Linked DNA regions of Homo sapiens: region 2 is linked to region 1. The links come from fine-mapping of genetic effects on gene expression. Tissue or cell type: whole blood. Region 1 holds a variant in brackets; the other region holds the start of a gene. All regions are shown on one strand. Distances are from middle to middle.

Region 1 (8,101 bases):
CGAGATCACGCCACTGCACTCCAGCCTGGGCAACAAGAGTGAAACTCCATTTCAAAAATAATAATAATAAATAAGGCTGGGCACGATGGCTCATGCCTGTAATCCCAGCACTTTGGGAGGCTGAGGCGGGAGGATCACAAGGTCGGGAGTTAGAGACCAGCCTAACCAACATGGTGAAACACCGTCTCTACTAAAAACACACAAATTAGCCGGGTGTAGTGGGGCACCTGTAATCCTAGCTACTCAGGAGGCTGAGGCAGGAGAATTGCTTGAACCCGGGAGGCGGAGCTTGTAGTAAGCCAAGATCACTCCCCTGCACTCCAGGCTGGGTGACAGAGTGAGACTCCGTCTCAAAAACAAAACAAAACAAAAATATATATATATATACACACACACACACACACACACACACACACACATATAAAAACATATATACACACACATATATATGTAAGTATAATATATACACATATATACATTCTGTGGGTTACCACATGTAAAGTATTCAGAACAGTGCCTGGCACACAGTGAGTACAATTTTTTTTTTTTTTTGAGACGGAGTTTCACTCTTGTTGCCCAGGCTGGAGTGCAGTGGCGCGATCTCGGCTCACTGCAACCTCCCCCTCGGGAGTTCGAGCAATTCTCCTGTCTCAGCCTCCCAAGTAGCTGGGATTACAGGCATGTGCCCAGCTAATTTTTCAATTTTTTTTCAGTAGAGACGGGGTTTCTCCATATTGGCCAGGCTGGTCTCAAACTCCCGACCTCAGGTGTCCACCCGCCTCGGCCTCCCAAAGTGCTGGGATTATAGTCGTGAGTCACCATGCCCAGCCAAGTACAATGATTTTATAGCATAATTTAATGATAACTAATATTGTATTTGTCATATATCATTATGCATATAAATATCATGACAATTTCTTTTTTTTTTTTTTTAAGACAGAGTCTCACTCTGTCACCCAGGCTGGAATGCAGTGGCATGACCTCAGCTCACTGCAACCTCTGCCTCCTGGGTACAAGCGATTGGCATTACCGACGTGTACACCACCACCCCCGGCTAATTTTTGTATTTTTAGTAGAAATGGGGTTTCGCCGTGTTGGCCAGGATGGTCTCGAACTCCTGACCTCAAATGATCTGCCCACCTCAGACTCCCAAAGTGCTGGGACTACAAGCGTGAACCACTGCACCTGGCCTATCATGAGAATTTCTAACATTCTTTTAGCTCTTTGTACATGCTAAGGGCATCGGCTGCAACATTTCACCCAATTTTATCATCAGCAACCTTATGAAGCAGGTACATAATTATCCCCATTTTACAGAAAGGAAGACTGAGGCCCAGGTGGCAGAAAATGCCTCTCCATAAATACTGGGCTAGTAAGTTTCAGAGCCAGGAAACCAGGCTTGCCAGAGACTCTAAGAGCTGCCTTTTTAACCTCTCCTAGGCCTGGGTAGAATTTGAAGACTCCCTGGAGGAAGTGTGCTTGCCTGGGCCACGATGAATGAGAATTTGACCACTGAGACGGGAATTCTGTGTGTAGCCACTGCATGCCTTTGCAAGAGATATGGCCTGGGGATCCAGGACTTGTGGTTGGACGAAAGAGTTTTCTCTACCTCTGGGCTAAGGGCAAGGAGAAGGAACAGGTGCTCACCTCAGGGTGAATACACAAGTTTTTGCGGGAGCTCAGAGCCAGTCCCAGAAACGGCAGCTTCTCGCCCTCCTGCTTCTCATAGAAGTTGAGCAACTTTCGAAGCTCTTCAATCACCTACTCCAAAGTTGGGGGGCAGGGGGAGCTTGTGCTCATTGGAGGCACAAACCCCTGCCCTGCCAGGTCCCAGTCTCTTCCCCAGCTTCCCAAACACCCCCGAAAGCTGGTGACGGCCACCGCCAGGGGGACCAATAGGGCCTAGGGAACAGTGGGGCTGGAGCACCAGGATGAGTCCCAGCTTACCTTCTCAATCTCTGGCACAGTTCTTGAGCAGTAGATGAGTTTGGTCACCTCCAGCGGATATGCCTGCCGATAACAAGCGGACTCAGTCCCTGTCCCGCCCCTTCCTTTGTCTGCCTTTACGGGTTCAGCGCATCACTCACTCTCTGGTATGCCATGATCAGGGCCAACAGGGATACTGTCTTCCCGGTGCCTGAGGGCATCTCCAGGACTCCATGACCCTGCATGTTGGGGACCAGAGGGGCAACACACAGGGTCTCAGAACCTTGGGCACACAAACTCTGGGGACTCTCCCCGACCCCCAATGCCACCAACTCAGAACAGCAGGATAACACAGCAGCAGTTAAGATTGGGCAGTGGGTTTGAACCTCACTTCTGCCTCCTCCTTGTTGAGTGGTCTTAGGCAAGTACCTTCACCTCCCCAGACCTCAGTATCCCTATCTCTAAAATGAGCCTAAAGCCAGGCGTGGTGGCTCACACCTGTAATCCCAGCACTTTGGGAGGCTGAGGCAGGTGAACCACCTGAGGTCAGAAGTTCAAGACCAGCTGGGCCAACAAGGTGAAACCCCGTCTCTACTAAAAATACAAAAAATTAGCCAGATGTGGTGGCGCGCACCTGTAATTCAATCTCAAAAATAAATAAATAAAATAAAATGGGCCTAATAATAAAACCTTCCTCATAACATGACTATGAGGATTGTGAGAAATTGCAGGTTAAATATTTGGCACAGTAGCTGATATATAGTGAACTTTTCTCCCTTCTTTTTTAAGAGACAAGTGTCACTATTGCCCAGGCTGGAATGCAGTGGCACAATCATGGCTCACTGCAGCCTCCAACTCCTGGCCTCAAGCGATCCTCCTGCCTCAGCCTCCCGAGTAGGTGGGATTACAGGCGCCCGCCACCACACCTGGCTAATTTTTGTATTTTTAGTACAGACGGGGTTTCACCGTGTTGGCCAGGCTGGTCTCCAACTCCTGACCTCAAGTGATCCGCCCGCCTCGTCCTCCCAAAGCTCTGGGATTACAGGCGCGAGCCACCGCGCCCAGCCTATTCACCATTATTGTTTTAGATAACGGAAGATTATGGGGTCCTGGATTCCCAGGGACCTCGGACTTCTAAAATCCAGACGTCCTGCAATCTGTCTTAGGCCCAGGCGTGGCAGCCCCACCGGTCGAGTGGGCGGGTCGGGCCCACCGGCCACCCACCTTGGCGTCCAGCGTGCGTTTGAGCTCCCGCATGTAGGAGAACTGCTCGGGGTAGATGTAGTCGTACGGGAAGTAGACCAGGAGCCCGTCCACGTTGAGCCTGGCGGCAGGGGCTGCTGGGTCAGTTCCCGTCCCCTCAGCCCCTCTCCCGCCTCCACAGTGCCCGGTCGTCGAGCCCAGAGAAGGGTGACGGGCCCGGCGCCCCCGGTAACCCTCAGGTCCTCAGGAGCCTCGGGGCCCCCTCAGTGTCTCCTCGCTATCACTGCTGCTCCCTGCGGCTGCCCCCGTCCCACCCCTTCACCCTCCCCTCGCCCCCTTGGGGACCCAGGCGCGCCCACCGATGACCCCATCTTCAAGACCCCCCGCGCCCGCTAGCGAGCGCGACCCCCAGCCCCCTTCTCACTTCATGGCGCCGGCCGGACTGTGCAGCGGGGTCGACCCGCCTCCCTCATGAATATTCAGCGAGAGGCCGGGTCGTGGACATCCTCGAGGGCTCGCTCCACCTATATTACGAGACCATTGGCTAACCTGCCCGTCAATCCGCTAGGGCAGAGCCAATCGGGATACTGCGCGTGCGCACGGAAAAGCGAGGGCGGC[T/G]GACTCTCGGGTGAGGCGGTGCGGGAGGCGTCACTGAGGATCGTCGAGGGCCAATCAAAAAGAAAACATGGAAGGGAAAGAGCCGAGAGACTCGATCTCATTCACTAGAATTTGGTCCTCCTGCGCCTGCCAAGATTGTCTGAGTATTGATCGAACCCAGGAGTTCGAGATCAGCTTGAGCAAGATAGCGAGAACCCCCGCCCCTCCACCTCGTCTCAAAAAAAAAAAAAAATCGTCTCAGTAGCGAATAGTCTAACGGAGAATGACAGGGAAATTGGTGATCCTTTCTGGGCCCAAGAGTTAGAAATGGCTTTGCAGGCCGGGCGCGGTGGCTCAAGCCTGTAATCCCAGCACTTTGGGAGGCTGAGGCAGGTGGATCACCTGAGGTCGGGAGTTCAAGACCAGCCTGACCAACATGGAGAAAACCTGTCTCTACTAAAGATACAAAATTAGCCGGGCGTGCTGGCAAATGCTTGTAATCCCAGCTACTCGGGAGGCTGAAGCAGGAGAATTGCTTGAACCTGGGAGGCAGAGGTTGCAGTGAGCAGAGATGGCGCCGTCGCACTCTAGCCTGGGCAACAAAAGCGAAACTCCATTTCAAATATTAATAATAATAACTAATAAATAAAACATAAATGCTAGCTTTTGTTTGTTTCTTCAACAAATAGCTATGTGGCATCTACCATGTGTCTGATCCTGTGCTGGCCCCTGGGAACAGAAAGGTGACCATGACAGCCTCAGCACCTGCCCTCAAAGAACAGATTTTTTTCCTTGAGACAGGGTCTTTCTCTGTCGCCAAGGCTGGAGTGCAGTGGCACAGTCACAGCTCACTGCAGCCTCCACCTCTTGGGCTCAAGCGATCCTCCCACCTCAGCTTCCAGAGTAGCTGGGACCACAGGTGTGCACCACCAAGCCCAGCTAAGTTTTATTTTTTAAATTTTTTTAGAGACGAGGTCTCACCACGTTGCCCAGGCTGGTTAAACTCGCAGGTTCAAGTGATCCTCTCCCCTCAGCCTTTCAAATTGTTGGGATTACAGGGGTGAGGCACCAGGCCTGGCCTCAAAGAACAGATATTAAATATACAAATGAATATATGATTACAGCCTGGAGTGGTGGCTCGTGCCTGTGGTTCCAACACTTTGGAAGGCCAAGGCGAGTACATTGCTTGAGCTCAGGAGCTAGAGACCAGCCTGGGCAACATGGTGAAAACCCGTCTCTACAAAAAATGCAAAAATTAGCTGGGCGTGGTGGCGTGCACCTGTAGTCCCAGATACTCAGGAGGCTGAGGTGGGAGAATCACCTGGGCCTGGGAGGCAGAGGTTGCAATGGGCAGTGATTGTGCCACTGCACTCCAGCCTGGGCAACAGGAGTGAAAACCTATCTCAAATGTGTGTGTGTGTGTGTGTGTGTGTGTGTGTGCGCACGTGTATAATCACAAGTACAAAAGTGCTGTGAAGGAAAACTTCAAGTCACCATAAAGATTGATTATGGGCTGGGTGCAGTGGCTCATGCCTGTAATCCCAGCACTTTGGGAGGCCAAGGCAGATGGATCACGAGGTCAGGAGTTCAAGACCAGCCTGGTCAACATGGTGAAACCCTATCTCTACTAAAAAAAAAAAAAAAAAAAAAAAAGCCAGGCATAGTGGCATGCATCTGTAATCCCATCTACTCGGGAGGCTAAAGCAGGAGAATTGCTTGAACCCAGGAGGCAGAAGTGAGCCAAGATCACGCCACTGCACTCCAGCCTGCGTGACAGAGCAAGACTCCGTCCCAGAAAAAGAAAAAAAAAAAAGACTTATTATGACAGGATGTCTACTGTCAACTGTGGGGTGTGAGTGTTGGCCAAGTGATCAGAGAAGGCTTCGTGGAAGAAGCGAGGTTTGAGTAGAGCCAGAAAATAATTAGAAGAGATCAACCAGCAAGAGGGGATGGATGAGAGAAGTGAGAAAGGTGTTCCAGGGAGAGAGACCATCATACACAAAAGCTCTAGGCCAGAAGAAAGCTGAGGCCTGTGAGTGCTGAAAGGAAGCCTGTGGGGGTGGAGCTCTGAGTTGAGCACAGGGAGCAGAGAAAGGGCAGCTGGAGGGGAAGGCAGGGGCAGATCGAAATCTCTTTTTTAAATTAATTAATTCTTAATTTATTTATTTTTGAGACAAGGTCTCACTCTTTCGCCCAGACTGGAGTACAGTGGCACAATCTCAGCGCACCGCAACCTCTGCCACCCAGGCTCAAGCAATTCTCTGGCCTCAGCCTCCCTAGTAGCTGGGATTACAGGTGCGCACCACTACTGCCCAGCTAATTTTTATACTTTTAGTAGAAACGGGGTTTCACTATGTTGGCCAGGCTGGCCTCAAACTCCTGACCTCAAAAGATCCACCCACTTCAGCCTCCCAAAGTGCTGGGATTACAGGTGTGAGCCACCCTTCCCGGCTGTATTTTTGGAGACAGAGTCTTGCTCTGTCCCAGCCTGGAGTATGGTGGTGTGAATTTGGCTCATTGCCACCTTGACCTCCAGGGCTCAAGTGATCCTCCCACCTCAGCCTCCTGAGTAGCTGGGACTGCGGGTACACGACACCACGCCTGGTTAATTTTTTTTAATTTTTTGTAGAGACGAGGGTATCTCACTATGTTGTCCAGGCTGGTTGAACTCCTGAGCTCAAGCAATTCTCCCACCTCAGCCTCCCAAAGTGGTGGGATTACAGACGTGAGCCACTGTGCCCGGCTTAATTTATTTACATAAATTTTTTTATGTTTACTTTTCTATCTCCTACAGGAAGAAAATATATTTTGTTATTGACAGGGTCTCGCTATGTTGCCCAGGCTGGTATTGGGCTCAAGCCATCCTGTTCCCTCAGCCTCCCAAAGTACTGGGATTACAAGCGTGAGCCTCTGCATCCAGCCCAGATCCAAAATCTTTACTGTCACCTACAGAGTCCTCTGTAACTAGCTTACTGCTCATCATCCCCATACCAACCCACCTTACTGCTCTGATCTCCTCCTCTCTCTCCCCCAGCTCATTTTGTTTCAGCTATGCTGGTCTCCTTGCTGTCTCTAAAACATAACAAGCACATCCCATCTCAGGGCCTTTGCACCAGCTATTTTGTCTGCCTGGAATGCTGTTTCCCCTGATAGCCATGTGGCTGACACACTCACCTCCCTCAGCTCTTTGCTCAATTGTCAACTTCTCGGCCCGGCATGGTGGCTCACACCTGTAATCCTACCACTTTGGGAGGCTGAGGTGGGCAGATCACCTGAGATCAGGAGTTCGAGACCAGCCTGGCCAAGATGGTGAAATCCCGTCTCTACTAAAAATACAAAAATTGGCAAAGCATGGTAGCACATACCAGTAATCCTAGCTACCCGGGAGGCTGAGGCAGGAGAATTGCTGGAACCCGGGAGGCAGAGGCTGCAGTGAGCCAAGATCATGCCACTGTACTCCAGCCTGGGTGACAAAGCAAGACTCTGTCTCAAAAAAAAAAAAGTCTCCTTCTCAATGAGGGCTTCCTGACCACCAAATTAAATCTACCTCCTAGACACACACACACACGCACGCACGCACGCACACACACACACGCACGCACGCACACACACACACACACACACACTATATCCCCTTTCCCTGCTTTATTGTTCTTGAGAGCTCATTTAACCATGTGACATGCTGAATATTTTACTTATTTATTTTGTTTAGAAAGCTCCTGGCTGGGCGCGGGGGCTCACGCCTGTAATCCCAGCACTTTGGGAGGCTGGAACAGGTGGATCATGTGAGGTCAGGAGTTCCAGACCAGCCTGACCAACACGGTGAAACCTCATCTCTATTAAAAATGCAAAAATTAGCTGGGTGTGGTGTCGCATGCCTGTAATCCCAACTACTCAGAAGGCTGAAGCAGGAGAATCGCTTGAACCTGGGAGGCAGAGGTTAACGCTGAGCCGAGATCGCGCCATTGCACTCCAGCCTGGGCAACAAGAGTGAAACTCTGTCTCGAAAAAAACAAAAGTCAGCTCCATGGCAGGAGTGATGGCTCACGCCTATAATCCCAGCACTTTGTGAGGCCGAGGCGGGCGGATCACTTGAGGTCAGGAGTTGGAGACCAGCCTGGCCAACATGGTGAAACCTCATCTCTACTAAAAATACAAAAATTAGCCGGGCGTGGTGACACATGTCTGTAGTCCCAGCTACTTGGGAGGCTGAGGCTGGAGAATGGCTTGAACCTGGGAGGTAGAGGTTGCAGTAAGCCAAGATCGCGCCATTGCTCTCCATCCTGGGCAACAGACTCCGTCTCAGAAAGGAAGAAAGAAGGAAAGAGAGAAAGAGAGAAAGAGACAGAGAGAGAGAGAGAAAGGGAGAAAGAGA
Region 2 (8,101 bases), 34 kb after region 1:
ATCACCTTTTTTTTTTTTTTTGAGATAGGGTCTCGCTCTGTAACCCAGGCTACAATTGTGACTCACTACAGCCTCTTGACCTCCCAGCTCAAGTGGTCCTCCCACCTCAGCCTCCTGAGTAGCTGAGACTATAGGTATAGCCTCGCACCACCACACCCAGCTAATTTTTTTTTTTTTTTTTTTTTTTTTTTTTTTTTTGAGACGGAGTCTTGCTCTGTCGCCCAGGCTGGAGTTCAGTGGCGGGATCTCGGCTCACTGCAAGCTCCGCCTCCCGGGTTCACGCCATTCTCCCGCCTCAGCCTCCCAAGTAGCTGGGACTACAGGCGCCCGCCACTACGCCCGGCTAATTTTTTGTATTTTTAGTAGAGACGGGGTTTCACCATTTTAGCCGGGATGGTCTCGATCTCCTGACCTCATGATCCGCCCGCCTCGGCCTCCCAAAGTGCTGGGATTACAGGCGTGAGCCACCGCGCCCGGCCACCCAGCTAATTTTTTAAAAACATTTTGTACACTTTGGGAGGCTAAGGCGGGAGGATCACGAGGTCAGGAGCTCGAGACCATCCTGGCTAACACGGTGAAACCCTGTCTCTACTAAAAAATACAAAAAAATTAGCTGGGCGTGGTGGCGGGCGCCTGTAGTCCCAGCTACTCGGGAGGCTGAGGCAGGAGAATGGTGTGAACCAGGGAGGCGGAGCTTTCAGTGAGCCGAGATCGCGCCACTGCACTCCAGCCTCGGAGACAGAGCGAGACTCCGTCCCAAAAAAAAAAAAAAAAAAAATTTGTAGAGACAGGGGTCTCACTTTGTTGCTCAGGCTGGTTTTGAACTCCTGGGCTCAAGCAATCCTCCCGCCTCAGCCTCCCAAAGTGCTGAGATTACAGGCATGAGCCACCACACCTGGCCAAATCAGCTATTCTGAAAGGCCCCTTTAATCTCTATGAGCCCCAGACTTTCAAACTGTAAGGACCTTAGGACTGTAACTAAAGTTCTACAGAGCCTAAACCCCTCAGCTAAAGAGCCTATTGTTGGAAAGTTCTGAGTCCAAGATTCTATCTTTGGAACATTCTAGAATTCTCCAATTTGTCTAACCCAGAATTCTGAGTCTTTCTGTACCACATTCTACCTAACCCAGGGTTGCACTGCTCTGGAAGTCTAGATGGATGGTATAGTGCAGCTGGTAAAAGCATGAGTAAGAAGTCAGACTTCAAAAATTCAAATCTGAGGGCCGGGCATGGTAGCTTCTGCCTGTAATCCTTGCACTTTGGGAGGCCGAGGGGGGAGGATCACTTGAGGCCAGGAGTTCAAGACCAACATGGCCAACACAATGAGACCCCATTTCTTAAAAAAAATTAAAATAAAATCATCAAATCTGGCAGCACCACCGTCCAACCCTGACCACAGTACCTCAGTCTCGTAATCCGTAAAATGGGGATGAAAGTTCACCTCATAGGACTACTGTAAGAATCCACCTGGTCAGAAGGTGCAGGAAGAATTCAGAGCTCTGAGAATTGAGGCCTCAGGAAGAAGAGACTACAGGAATAAAAACTCGGGCATTTAGAATTTCAGAGATACACAAACAATACTTTGTTAACTGTTAAAATAGATAAATGAGCAAGTCTGTGCAGCCCTAATGCCAGCTGTAAGTGACTCTTTTTTTTTCTTTTGGTAGAGATTTAGTCTCTCTCGCGCCTGTGGTTAGGCTGGTCTCGAACTCCTAGCCTCATGGGATCCTCCCCGGCTCGATCTCCCAAAGTATTGGGATTACAGGCGTGAGCCACGGCGCCATGATCCCCAAATTTCCAAGATTCTCAGATTCCATACTGACATTCTCTGGCTCTCAGGAAATGCCAACCCTGGGTGTGGGGCTGTCGCGGGGACAGGCGGTGGGGACGTCGGAGCCACCAGGGGGCGGTCACGCCCGGACCCCCGCCAGGAGGGCGGACTGCGCCTGAGCTCAGGCCCGGGGAATGCGCAGCGGGCCCGGGCAGGTGCTGTACATCCCGGGGCAAGGGAGCTGGGCCGGGCGGGGTACAAGGGCGGGGCGCGGGGGTGGCGCGGGCCGTGTGTCTGTTCCCAGGCCTCTGCCCCTGACCTCTGCCTCCGAGTCCTCTCCCATGTGCTCCCCTCTAGCTCTAGCTCCGAGCTCTCCCGCGGGCTCTGGGCCAGCCGCAGGTACTCTCCCCTGGGCTCCTCTCTCCGCTCCACCCCTGGCTCTCCTTCCCTGGCCTCCTCTGCACCCCAGCCAGGTTCTTTAGGGCTAAGGATCCTGTGGACTTCCTGGAGGAGTCATCTTCAGTAGGAACCGGGTCAGAGAGCCAGACTGAGCTGGGAACACCCAGGCTGGACTCCTACAGCCCTGTCGGGTCACACTGAATCTGGAGAGGCTCCACTGTCTCTGGGACTCGGTTTCCTCCTTTGTGGACGTCTATGGAATGGGCTAGGGCCTTTCTTGCTCTAAGCCTCTACTTGGGCTTGTTATTTAGCTTCTCTGTGCCTGTTTCCTCATGTGGACCATGGGAAGAATTAATACCTTCGCCTCAAAGGGGTATGAGGATTGAGTGACATAATTTATAAGCCGTGATTAGAACAATGCAGTGCGCGAAATAAAGTTCACACATACAGGATTCATAATTACCAGATGTCCTTGGCTGTTCATTATAATAACACAGGGTCTGGCAACAGAGTGAGGGGTCCAGACTCAATGTAATTTTTTTTTCCCCTAAAAGGGCCCTTTCAACTCTTTCTGAGATCATACAAGCCCTGAGTTTTGACACCCAGGGTCTCAACTTCCTGAGCCCTTGCCTCTCAGAGTCCTAAATTTCCCCTGTACATTCCTGAGTCTGGCCAGTGATCACCCTCAGTCACTTAGGGACGGGAGGGCTGGGAGAGCCCTGGAAGATTCCAGACAGAAGCTGGCAAAAGCCCAGGGTGTGGGCAATATCCACTCTCCAGCCTCCGTTTCTCCACTCGTAATGAGGAGTCCTTCCCTGGGGTCAGCAAACCTTATTCAAAGGGAGACCTCTCAGTCACCCAAGATTCCTCTAGACAATGCGAGCTTTCCTACCTACCTACCTACCAGCTCTGAGCTTGGTACACCCAGAGCCCTGTTTTGGCAACCACGGTTATTATTTTTAATTTCATTTCAGGTTATCATCAAATGCCCTTCAAGCCCAGACATTGGGAAACACTCCTCTCTCATCAGATGCTCGCCTCCCCCATTCTGTTTTTAATCCCCCTTCTTAGGACGCATGGGGGTGGAGAGAACGGGGAGATAGACAGAGGGAGGTGCCTGGTCCTGCCCTCCCCCCGCCTCAAGGACAGACAGACACCTCCAGAATTAGCCTCTGTCCCTCCCTTATCTCCCACAATACCCCAGGTCAGACAGATGGGCGTGGAGGTGACATTTCTCACCTCAGGGTCAGGGCAAGGAGCCCTGAGGCAGAAGGTTAGTCAGAAAATCTGGCGGGGGCGGATGGAATCCCGTCCCCCAGAGAGCTGCAGAAGAAGGAGGAGGCAGAATCCTGACCCTACAAACTCTACTGCCTGTGTGAGCTCCAAGCCTCAGTTTACCCCTTCCTCTCCGTGTAATGGTTAAATGCCCGGCTATGCAAACCTCCCAGAATCCAATAGCCGCTTTCCGGAATTCTGCCCTGGGTTCTAGAACTACCTCTGCAAACCCAGCTGTTTCCCACCCCATAAGGCAATAGGGGAGCCCACCTCCGCCAGGGGGTGCCCTAGGGCGGATGTCCCTTCTCTGGTTAGGCAGGTCTGACGCCCAGGTTAATGACATGTTGGGTTCGCTCAGCGGCACAGAGGAGGTTGGAGATCTGCCTCGGTGTTTTCTCTCCTACCCCGCCCCCATCCCCGAGCCGAAAAGTCGGGGGAGAGCCGGGACACAGCCTCCGGAGGGACCCCGGGTACCTGTCCTGCTCCACTTCAGGAACCCAGGCTCCACTATCCCTGCCCCACCCTTAATTCTGCTCAGAGACCTAGAAGATCGGTCGAGACAGCAGCTTGAGGCTGGCAGGGTGGTCACCCATTCCACCTTGAGCCCCACCAGTCTGAGCCTCTCATTTCTGACCAAGACTCGGGGATTCGAACCCCTATACTACCCAAAGACTCGGCTTCCTAGAGCCCCCCAGTTCGAGGGACTCAGGAATTCCAGCTCCAACGTCTCCCCGGGATGAAGGGGTAGAATCCCTCCATTCCAAGAATTCAGGCATCCGAACCCGCTTTCCTTCCCTCCAGTAAAACAGGCAACGGAGTTTCCTTCTAAGGATCCAGGTGTCGGCGCGCCCCAAATTCCGCCCTGGGACCTGGCGTCCGAGTCCCCTCCCAATCCTCCCAGGGACGCGGGTGTTGGGCTTTTTCAGGGCCTCTGGTCCCCAGGAGGGTGAAACTCACGGATCCGGGCAGATCCTGGCACCTGGGGGCTTCCTCCAGCTCGGGCTCCGGCTTGGGGAGCGGAGAACGGGGCGGGGCAGGAGCTGGGAACAGGTTAGACGACGTGACTTGGGCTGGAGGGAGGCGGGTCCCGGTGGGGAGGGGGAGCCAAGGTCGCCTCGAGCACCTTGGGACTTGTAGTCCCGGAGGGACAGGACGTAGCCCAAGACGATCCCATTTGGATTCACCCAGAGTCCATTTCACAGACAGGAAGGGCGAGGCCCAGAAGCCGAGAGCGACCAGGCCAGGGAGATACAGAAGAGCCGAGACGCCTGCCTCGCTGTGGCTGGAGACTGACTCCTGAGCCCTTGCCCCACCCCTTCAGGCGCACTATCCCCTTTCCTGATCAGTATCCCCCAGGGTCTCTGAGCCCGAATCTCCCCGTCGATAAAAAGCGCGGGTTGGATCTTCAAAGGATGTCCCAGCAAGAGTTCAAAATCTTAGTTTGGACTACAACCCCCAGCAGCCTCCGCGACCGCCCTCGGGCGACTCTTTGCCTCGGGTCCTGTGGGAATTGTAGTCCTGGAGCCCGCAGGGGCTGCACCCCGGTGTCTCTCTCGCCCACGCGAAGGAAACCGTCTGGAGATCCTGGATAGGGGAAACATTTCCCCTTCCCCTTGACCCTCCCTCCGCTCTGGAAAGCCTCTCCCACCTGGGGAGAAGGGGTGCCCCAATTCTGGAGTAGGATCCTAAATCTTGGCAGAGGGGGCGGGAAGTGGCGCTGACACACTGGCCAGGAATGCAGTCGGGTCACCCTGTCTAGCCACCGTCTCGCGGCTCCAACCGCCGCCCAACGCGGGGCGGCCCCAGTGGGAAGGGAAGTGGGTGCGTCCCCCAAATCTGTGTCCACGTGCCGCTGTTTACACGCTCCCTGGGGCAGGGAGGAGTCGCCGATCAGGTCCCTTCCTGAAAGTCATCGAGGTTTCCCACGCATGAGACTAAACCCCCGAGGGCATCTACAAGTCCCATTTGATCCACAAACGCTACACCGTGCCCAGCACCACTCCACGCGTGTGGGGCTCCTGGGTCCGAGGCTCCGCCCTCGAGAACCACAAGCTCCTCCCCCTATGTTTCCCGCTCCCCCGGAGTCCAGAAGCCCCGCCCCTGGCTGGAACTTCACGCCCTCCGGACGGATTGCCCCTATTTCTCCATTTTCCCGCTTCTCCCAGTCAAGTTCTGAACTTGTGAGGCATCTGGGCCTCCCCAGAAGACATTTAACACAGAAAGCACAGCCCTACTAACTAGTATTCTTACCTGTCTCTTCAAGAATTTCAGACCAATCGACCGTCCTGTCTCTTTAAGGCTTAGGAAGAGCAGTGTGGCTGCCCCTTTAAGGAGGCGTTGCAACAAACCATATTGGACAGACGATGGGGGCGACCCATCGGGACCCGACGGGCCTCTGACTCCAGCAATACAGCGAATCAGCGGCTTTCGGGAATACATTTTTCGGAAAAAGACTTCTTCCTCGGTTTTCTGCTCTGCACACGTTGAAATTTTCCCCAGTTTTTCCTGCAGATCGGGAGTCGAGCAATGCCTACCCCCGCGCTCCCGCACCAGTTGGGCGCTCCCGGATGATGCCCTACCCCTTTGGATCCACGTGGTCTGCAACCTGGTGCGAGCAGCCCGGGCTACAGGGTTGCCTGAGGTGTGGGTCCCAGGATGGAGGAGCCCCAGGCCGGCGGTGAGGGTGCGGGTTGACGGGGTGCGGAGGGTGCGTTGGTGGAAGGAGAAAGGGGCGTCCGAGAGGGTTCGGGCGGAAAAGGAGGCGTACCTGCAAGCAGGACTTGCGAAGAGCGTGCATTCCCAGTGGGCGAACGGGAATTCGAACGGAGAGAGGGTTATCTTGTGGGGGGCTACCCGTGGAGAGCAAGGCGCCCCCAGGGGTTGGATCGGTGAAATTGAGGTCGCCCCTGGGGAACAGGTGGGCAGAAAGGAGAAACCAGGTTGAGGGGACTGGAGTGCTCACGAGGTTAAGACCAATGGACCGATAGGCGCGCCCTGCAAGATTGGACCGGCAAGGAGGTGTCAGTCGACCCCATTTCCCCTTCTGCTGCAGATGCTGCTCGGTTCTCTTGTCCCCCCAACTTTACCGCGAAGCCCCCAGCCTCAGAGTCCCCTCGTTTCTCCTTGGAGGCGCTGACGGGTCCAGATACGGAGCTGTGGCTTATTCAGGCCCCTGCAGACTTTGCCCCAGAATGGTGAGTGGTCTTGTTGACGGAAAAGAGGGTCCCGGTCCAGACCCCAAGAGCGGGTTCTTGAATTTGTCACAGGAAAGAATTAGAGGTGAGTCACAGAGCACAGTGAAAGAAACAAGTTTATTGGAAACTACTCCTTTACAGAGTAGAGTGTCCTCAGAAAGCAGGGGGAGAAACCCACAGCCCTTTGTTAGTATTTCTACTTATAAGAAACTATAAGGAACTATAGTTAAACTTGGAGTGTGCAGATAAGCTCACTAAAGGTAGGGGCTATTGGTGTTATCCACGACCATTAATCCTGCAACCTAAGCTTGCTCATTTATGTTATATTTAAGTAATGGGGGCTGCATTCTTAGGACATTTGGACATTCTGCAGGCTTGGTGGAACATGTTCTGTATGGCCATAAATATTCTGTAATTATAATTGGTGGTCAGCCTGGGATGTGGTTATTTTCAGGCCATAAGCATGAACCTTGTAAGTGCCTAGCTACTCACTTTAAGATGGAGTCACTCTAGTCATGTTTTATTAAAAACCAGAGGCCAGCCAGGCGCAGTGGCTGGTGCCTGTAATCCCATCCTTTGGGAGGCCGAGGCGAGCAGATCACTTGAGGTCAGGAGTTCAAGACCAGCCTGGCCAACATAGTGAAATTGTCTCTACTAAAAATACAAAAATTGGCTGGGCGTGGTGGCAGGTGCCTGTAATCCCAGCTACTTGAGAGGCTGAGGCAGGAGAATCGCTTGAACCCAGGAGGTGGACATTGCAGTGAGCCGAGATCATGCCACTGCACTCCAGCCTAGGCAACAGAGCAAGACTCTCTCAAAAAAAAACAAAAAAAAAATCAAAAAACCTTCCCTCTCCTGTTCCACTTAAGCCTCTGCCCTCCCTGTTTCTCTCTGTAGCTTCAATGGGCGGCATGTGCCTCTCTCTGGCTCCCAGATCGTCAAGGGCAAATTGGCAGGCAAGCGGCACCGCTATCGAGTCCTCAGCAGCTGTCCCCAAGCTGGAGAAGCGACCCTGCTGGCCCCCTCAACGGAGGCAGGAGGTGGACTCACCTGTGCCTCAGCCCCCCAGGGCACCCTAAGGATCCTTGAGGGTCCCCAGCAATCCCTGTCAGGGAGCCCTCTGCAGCCCATCCCAGCAAGTCCCCCACCACAGATCCCTCCTGGCCTGAGGCCTCGGTTCTGTGCCTTTGGGGGCAACCCACCAGTCACAGGGCCTAGGTCAGCCTTGGCCCCCAACCTGCTCACCTCAGGGAAGAAGAAAAAGGAGATGCAGGTGACAGAGGCCCCAGTCACTCAGGAGGCAGTGAATGGGCACGGGGCCCTGGAGGTGGACATGGCTTTGGGGTCGCCAGAAATGGATGTGCGGAAGAAGAAGAAGAAAAAAAATCAGCAGCTGAAAGAACCAGAGGCAGCAGGGCCTGTGGGGACAGAGCCCACAGTGGAGACACTGGAGCCTCTGGGA

The links. PIP is the estimated chance that this variant, and not a neighbour inherited with it, causes the effect.
Region 2: it holds the start of PPP1R13L, and the variant in region 1 is fine-mapped to the expression of PPP1R13L in whole blood (TOPMed, PIP above 0.99).

The regions. Positions count from the first base shown.
Region 1 is chr19:45,366,983-45,375,083 of GRCh38, forward strand. ERCC2 (ERCC excision repair 2, TFIIH core complex helicase subunit) reads right to left here and starts at 3,591. Exons shown (of 23, transcript NM_000400.4): 1 at 3,554-3,591; 2 at 3,151-3,250; 3 at 2,088-2,165; 4 at 1,948-2,010; 5 at 1,648-1,761. The coding sequence starts at 3,558. RefSeq lists enhancers at 2,345-3,186, 3,805-3,884. The variant T/G (reference allele first, on the strand shown) is at 3,748.
Region 2 is chr19:45,400,597-45,408,697 of GRCh38, forward strand. PPP1R13L (protein phosphatase 1 regulatory subunit 13 like) reads right to left here and starts at 4,473. Exons shown (of 13, transcript NM_006663.4): 1 at 4,403-4,473. It overlaps POLR1G (RNA polymerase I subunit G), which reads left to right and starts at 6,048. Exons shown (of 3, transcript NM_012099.3): 1 at 6,048-6,122; 2 at 6,498-6,639; 3 at 7,537-8,101. The coding sequence starts at 6,101. It overlaps ERCC1 (ERCC excision repair 1, endonuclease non-catalytic subunit), which reads right to left. Exons shown (of 10, transcript NM_001983.4): 10 at 6,738-8,101. RefSeq lists silencers at 1,820-2,069, 2,110-2,199 and enhancers at 4,359-5,154, 5,125-5,324.